Linked DNA regions of Homo sapiens. The protein of the gene in region 1 purifies or fractionates together with the protein of each later gene. This does not show direct contact. Each region holds a gene or a part of one and is shown in the gene's direction. Other genes may lie near its edges. The genes, in order: PAAF1 and DERA.

The links.
Region 2: the proteins of PAAF1 (region 1) and DERA purify together in Homo sapiens (affinity purification with mass spectrometry; one large-scale study listed by BioGRID and IntAct). This does not show direct contact.

Annotation. Positions count from the first base shown.
Region 1 is NC_000011.10:73,879,960-73,883,786, forward strand, and holds part of PAAF1 (proteasomal ATPase-associated factor 1), read left to right. Parts: intron 1-3,827. UniProt on the Homo sapiens protein: Inhibits proteasome 26S assembly and proteolytic activity by impairing the association of the 19S regulatory complex with the 20S core.
Region 2 is NC_000012.12:16,035,447-16,038,048, forward strand, and holds the end of DERA (deoxyribose-phosphate aldolase), read left to right. Parts: intron 1-785; coding exon 786-935; intron 936-1,243; coding exon 1,244-1,300; 3' UTR 1,301-1,935; downstream 1,936-2,602. UniProt on the Homo sapiens protein: Catalyzes a reversible aldol reaction between acetaldehyde and D-glyceraldehyde 3-phosphate to generate 2-deoxy-D-ribose 5-phosphate. Participates in stress granule (SG) assembly.

The DNA of each region.
Region 1 (3,827 bases):
CCAGACGTGGGGGCTCATACCTGTCATCCACCATTCTGGGAGGCCAAGGCGGAGGATTGCTTGAGACCAGCCTGGGAGACATAGGGAGACCTCGTGTCTACAGCAAATAAAACTAGCTGGGCATGGTGTTGGGTGTCTGTAGTCCCAGCTACTCAAGAGGCAGAGGTGGGAGGATTGCTCAAGCCCAGCAAGTCAAGGCTGCAGTGAGCTGTGATTATGCTACTGGACCTCCTACCCTGGACAAGGGTAGCCGTGATCATGCTGCGTGGTCTCCTACCCTGGACCAGAAAGTGAGACCCTGGCTCTAAAAAAAGAAACACACACACAAATACACAAATATATATATATACACACACACATATACATATGTATACTTAACATAAAAATTCAAGGAAAATACTGTATTTTATTTTACCTATTTTATTGTGCTTAATTATGTTCAAAAATCCTATTCTAACTGCTTGAGCTAGGATTGTGCCACTGTACTTCAGCCTGAGAGACAGAGCAAAACCCTGTCTCAGTTAAAAAAAAAAAAAAAAGCCAGGTGCGGTGGCTCTACTAAAAAAAAATACAAAAAATTAGCCGGATGTGGTGGTGGGCCCCTGTAGTCCCAGCTACTCGGGAGCCTGAGGCAGGAGAATGGAGTGAACCCGGGAGGCGGGGCTTGCAGTGAGACCAGATAGTGCCACCGCATTCCAGCTTGGATGACTGAGCAAGACTCTGTCTCGAAAAAAAAAAAAAAAAAAAAAAAAAAAAAAGCCAGGCACAGCAGCTCACGCCTGTGATCCTAGCACTTTAGGAGGCTGTGGCGGGCGGATCACCTGAGGTCAAGAGTTTGAGACCAGCCTGGCTAACATGGTGAAGCCCTGTTTCTACTAAAAATACAAAAAATTACCTGGGCGTGGTGGTGCATGCCTGTAATCCCAGCTACTCGGAAGGCTGAGGCAGGAGAATCGCTTAAACCCAGCAGGTGGAGGTTGCAGTGAGTGGAGATCGTGCCATTGCACTCCAGCCTGGGCAACAAGAGCGAAACTCCATCTCTAAATAAATAAATAAATAAAATAAAAATACACAAAAGACCTACATTTTATTTTAACTAAAATATATAAACATACATTAAAATTCACCTTCTCTTTATTAGTCCACTTATTATTACAAGGACCTTGGCTATCTTGTAATAAACTGTAACCAAAAGGCACAGTTTCTTTAAAGCAAGGCAAATCTTTACTTAGGCTAAAAAAGCAATCTAAGAGCAAAACATCAACTGGGGTTTATATTTTTTTAGATCTTTTCCCTAATATTTTGCATTTTTCTTGCCGATACATACTATTAAAGCAGTATTTTTTAAACAGAATCTAGCTCTGTCACCTAGGCTGGAATGCAGTGGCATGATCTCAGCTCACTGCAACCTCCAGTCCTAGGTTCAAGGGATTCTTGTGCCTCAGCCTCCTGAATAGCTGGGACTACAGCTGGGACTACTACCATGCCCAGCTAATTTTTGTATTTTTAGTAGAGACAGGGTTTCACCATGTTGGCCAGGCTGGTCTTGAACTCCTGAGCTCAAGTGATCCGCCCGCCTTGGCCTCCCAAAGTGCTGGGGTTACAGGTGTGAGCCACTGCCCCCGGCCTAAAACAGTTTTAAAAAAACATTATCAAGTCTTTACAAAGCAACAAACTTAATGTTGTTGTTGTTGTTGTTGTTTTAAATTACCAAGCTACCTTCAACAACCAAGGAGTTTTTTTGTTTGTTTGTTTGTTTGTTTTTGAGATGGAGTCTCACTCTGTTGCCCAGGCTGGAGTGCAGTGGTGCAATCTTGGCTCACTGCAACCTCTGCCTCCTGGGTTCAAGCAATTCTCCAGCCTCAGCCTCCCAAGTAGCTAGGACTACAGGCGCGTGCTACCATGCACGGCTAATTTTTTGTATTTTTTTTTGAGATGGAGCTTTGCTCTTGTTGTCCAGGCTGAAGTGCAATGGTGCCATCTTGGCTCACTGCAACCTCCGCCTCCCAGATTCAAGCAATTCTCCTGCCTCAGCCTCCCGAGTAGCTGGGATTACAAGCATGTGCCACCATGCCTGGCTAATTTTGTATTTTTTTTTTTTAATAGAGACAGAGTTTCTCCATGTTGGTCAGGCTGGTCTCGAACTCCCAACCTCAGGTGACCCGCCTGCCTCAGCCTCCCAAAGTGCTGGGATTACAGGCGTGAGCCACTGTGCCCCGCAATTTTTTGTATTTTTAGTAGAGATGGGGTTTCACTGTGTTAGTCAGGATGGTCTCCATCTCCTGACCTCGTGATCCGCTCCCTGGCCTCCCAAAGTGCTGGGATTACAGGCGTGAGGCACCGTGCCTGCACTTTTTTTTTTTTTTTTTTGAAGGTAACTTGTAGATTCAGTTTTCTTTATGAATTGGAGTTAATGATGTCAACTCTTAAGGAGGAGGGTGGTTTTTGTTTCTGTGTGTGTTTATTTTTATTTTTATTATTTATTTATTTATTTATTTATTTTTGAGATGGAGTTTCGCTCTTGTCGCCCAGGCTGGAGTGCAGTGGTGCGATCTCCGCTCACTGCAACCTCCACCTCCTGGATTCAAGCGATTCTCCTGCCTCAGCCTCCCAAGTAGCTGGGATTTCAGACATGCGCCACCACGCCTGGCTAATTTTTTTGAGACGGAGTCTCGCTCTGTTGCCCAGGCTGGAGTGCAGTGGCATGTTCTCGGCTCACTGCAAGCTCCGCCTTCCAGGTTCATGCCATTCTTCTGCCTCAGCCTCCGAAGTAGCTGGGATTACAGGTGTCCGCCACCACGCCCAGCTAATTTTTTTGTATTTTTAGTAGAGACGGGGTTTCACCGTGTTAAGCAGGATGGTCTCGAACTCCTGACCTTGAGATCCGCCCACCTCGGCCTCCCAAAGTGCTGGGATTACAGGCGTGAGCCACTGTGCCTGGCCTGTTCTTATTTTTTTGAGACAGGGTCTTGCCCTGTTGCCCAGGCTGGAGTACAGTTGCATGATTATGGCTTACTGCAGCCTTGATCTCCTGGGTTCAAGAGATCCTCCCACTTCAGCCTCCTCAGTAGCTGGGACCACAGTCATGCACTACCATACCTGGCTAATTTTTTAAATTTTTTGTAGAGACAAGGTCTCACTATGTTGCCCAGGCTGGTCTTGAACTCCTGTGTTTATTTTTTAATACATGGGGTCTCGCTGTGTTTCCCAGGTGCTGAATTTGAACTCCTGGTCTCCAGTGATCCTCCCTCAGCCTCCCAAGTAGCTGGGACTCTAGGTGTGATCCACCATCTTGTTTCTTGTTTTTGTTTTTAAATAACAGCTTTATTGAGATAAAAATGTGTGCTATCTATGTGCTAGTTACTTTACATATATTATTTCTAGTATCACCCCCAAAACAGTCTATACCCATTAACAGTCACTTTCCACCCCCCAATCCTAGCAACCACTAGTTTACTTTCTAGCTCTGTGGATTTGCCTACTTTGGACATTTCATATAAATGGAATCATAAAATACATGGCCTTTTGTGTGACTTCTTTCACTTAGTATAATGTTTCTTTCTTTCTTTTTTTTTTGAGAGTCTCACTGTGTCGTCTAGGCTGAAGTATAGTGGCACAATCTCGGCTCCTCACTGCAGCCTTCACCTCCCAGGTTCAAGTGATTTTTGTGCCTCAGCCTCCTGAGTAGTTGGGATTACAGGCGCCTGCCACCACACCCGGGTAATTTTTGTATTTTCAGTAGAGACGAACGAGGTTTCGACATGTTGGCCAGGCTGGTCTTGAACTCTTGGCCTCAAGTGATCCTCCCACCTCGGCCTCCCAAAGTG
Region 2 (2,602 bases), on another chromosome or scaffold:
CATGTAAATCCAGATAATCAGAGTTTTATTGTATATGGAACATATCTTTCATTTCCTAATGGATCCAGGGACATCATTTACGAATATCAGATATTGGCTGAATTCAGCTGTGTTATGATCAACCTTAAAGACTACTGGACTATGAGGAGCCCCTCACGGTGTTTTTCTACTGCCCTTATGTAACTGGTCTGCCAGCTTTTTAGAACTGTGTGTGCCTGCAACTTAGAAAAAAAATCCCACAGTTAAATTGGTTAAAACAACTGTCAACTTTCCTTGCTTTTTTGCTGCCAGTTTGGTTAGGGTAACCTTGCAGCCTTGCTGATTCTGTCCTTTGATTTTAAATGCACGTGTCTTTTGAACCTCAAGATGAAGGCTGAGAAGTGACTCTACAGGCTTACTTGTGGAAATGTAGAATGAGTGGGCTTTGCTTTTGTGATCTGTTTTCCTATTTATTGACACCTTCCTTGTTTATTCCAGGTTCACAGCTATAGTCTAGATGGTGGAGGTTTATGACTTTCCAATAAGTGAAATGTTAATGAGGGTTATTAACCCTCACTAGTGTCTGTTTGGAAGTAGTGACATTCTTCCAAAAATCTTGGAAAAGTTGTTTTGTAGTGTGAATGAGCATGAGTCACTGATCTAAGCCCTTTCACTGGATGAAGTGAAAAGATTTTTTTTCAACAAAAGAGGGAGAGAGAGAATCAAGACTCTGATAAACATAGTACTATTTTTAAAAGAAATCCAATAACAATAAAGATTGTTCTATTCTCTGCCTTCCCATTTAGATAGGGTTTAAACCAGCAGGAGGCATCCGCAGTGCAAAGGATTCCCTTGCTTGGCTCTCTCTTGTAAAGGAGGAGCTTGGAGATGAGTGGCTGAAGCCAGAACTCTTTCGAATAGGTGCCAGTACTCTGCTCTCGGACATTGAGAGGCAGGTGAGTAATCATCTCTGTCTTTGGAATAAATTAACAAGTGTTTTTTGAGAAAGGAATTGAAAAGTCAAATTGAGAACTGGAGATAAAAACTCATCTGATTGACCTCATCCTACCCAATCCTCTACCTTTTCTTCCAAGCAAACCGCCATCAGAAGTGAGTAGGGTGGAGATTCTGCTGAAGCACATACTAGTGAGGCTTTCTAATGAAATGTTCATTAAAACTATTTATTATTATTTGATAGTATAATTATTAACTGATGTGTATAATTATAGAATGATTGTTAATTAAACTCTGCTTTTCCTCACAGATTTACCATCATGTGACTGGAAGATATGCAGCTTATCATGATCTTCCAATGTCTTAAATCAGTCACCAGTTCCAGAAAAGTTCTTTACGACAATGTTTAAAAATTATTTTTCTACGTAATTGCTAAAATTATTTAATTAAAAAATTGGGCAGTAGGTAACTGGCATTCCTCTCTTTAAAATTTCTACCGAACTTAATGGAATGGAAAAAGCAAACTCATCCACATGTGGTACTCATTTCAGGCACATCTGAAATGATCTTAATTACTAGAAGATCTGCACTATTAACTTTGTGAAGAGTTTCTCCTAAAAACTTTAAGTAAAATGTTAATGGTAGCTTTGATAACATCAAATTCTAAGGGAGAAAAAAACAATATTAAACCGCCCAAGCAGTGTGCCCTAGCAGAGGAAAATGCAACATCTCGCAAGCGCTGCTGTAACGACTTCAGGAGTCACTGATTCAGCACTAATTTCCTGCTGTGAAAACTCATCTTTCATTTTTGCCGTGGATAGGCGCTTTTATTAATTGTTGTCCTAATGAAATTTCTGACATTGTCATATACAACGATGAATATCATTAAAATTTTTAAAATAATAAAGTTCCTATAGTTTATTTTTTTAAAAAACTTAAAAATTGTTACAATACATAATGAAAAAATAATCCATTAAACATAAAAAGAGGTTTGATCAGTGAGTCTCTGAATCTCTCTAGTTGATTCCTTGGGTATATATCTGTAAAACACCCCAGTATGTTATTAATGAATGCAACTTATGTATGTGTTCTGAAACTTCAAATTTTCTGGTATAGTGAATGGAGGAAAACAGTAGATATTAACAGCACTTGCTGTGTAATAAGCTTTACATATATCAATTTATTTAACTCTCATTTAATCCTCATAATAGTAAGGTAAATACAGTTAAGGGTTTTGCTTCTTATAGCAGTAAGTACTCATGTAAACATCCTTTTATACAGACAGGGGAATGAGGAACAAAGAGTTTAAGCAACGTGCCAAAGGTTGCTCAAAATTAGCAGAGTTAAAAATCAAGCCCAAGCAGACAGGCTGGCTCCCAAGTGCGTGCAGTCACCCCCATGTCTCCCTGTCCCTCGGTACACATAGTCAGGTGTACATAAACAGAGCTCCCCATCAGCTGAGAGGACGGTAATCTGCCTCATGGTGGCTGGCTTTTTTGCTCTCTGTCTGTCCCAGCCTCGCTCTTCCGGAGATTCTGCTTGCTAGCACCTCTACCACGTTACAGAATGTGTTTCTTTGAATGGTGATTTTCATCAGGAGAGTCTTTTTCTTCCCTGAATGGCTCTCTAGTTGCTCATAAGCAAAAACCTGGACTGGAAGTCAGTTTTG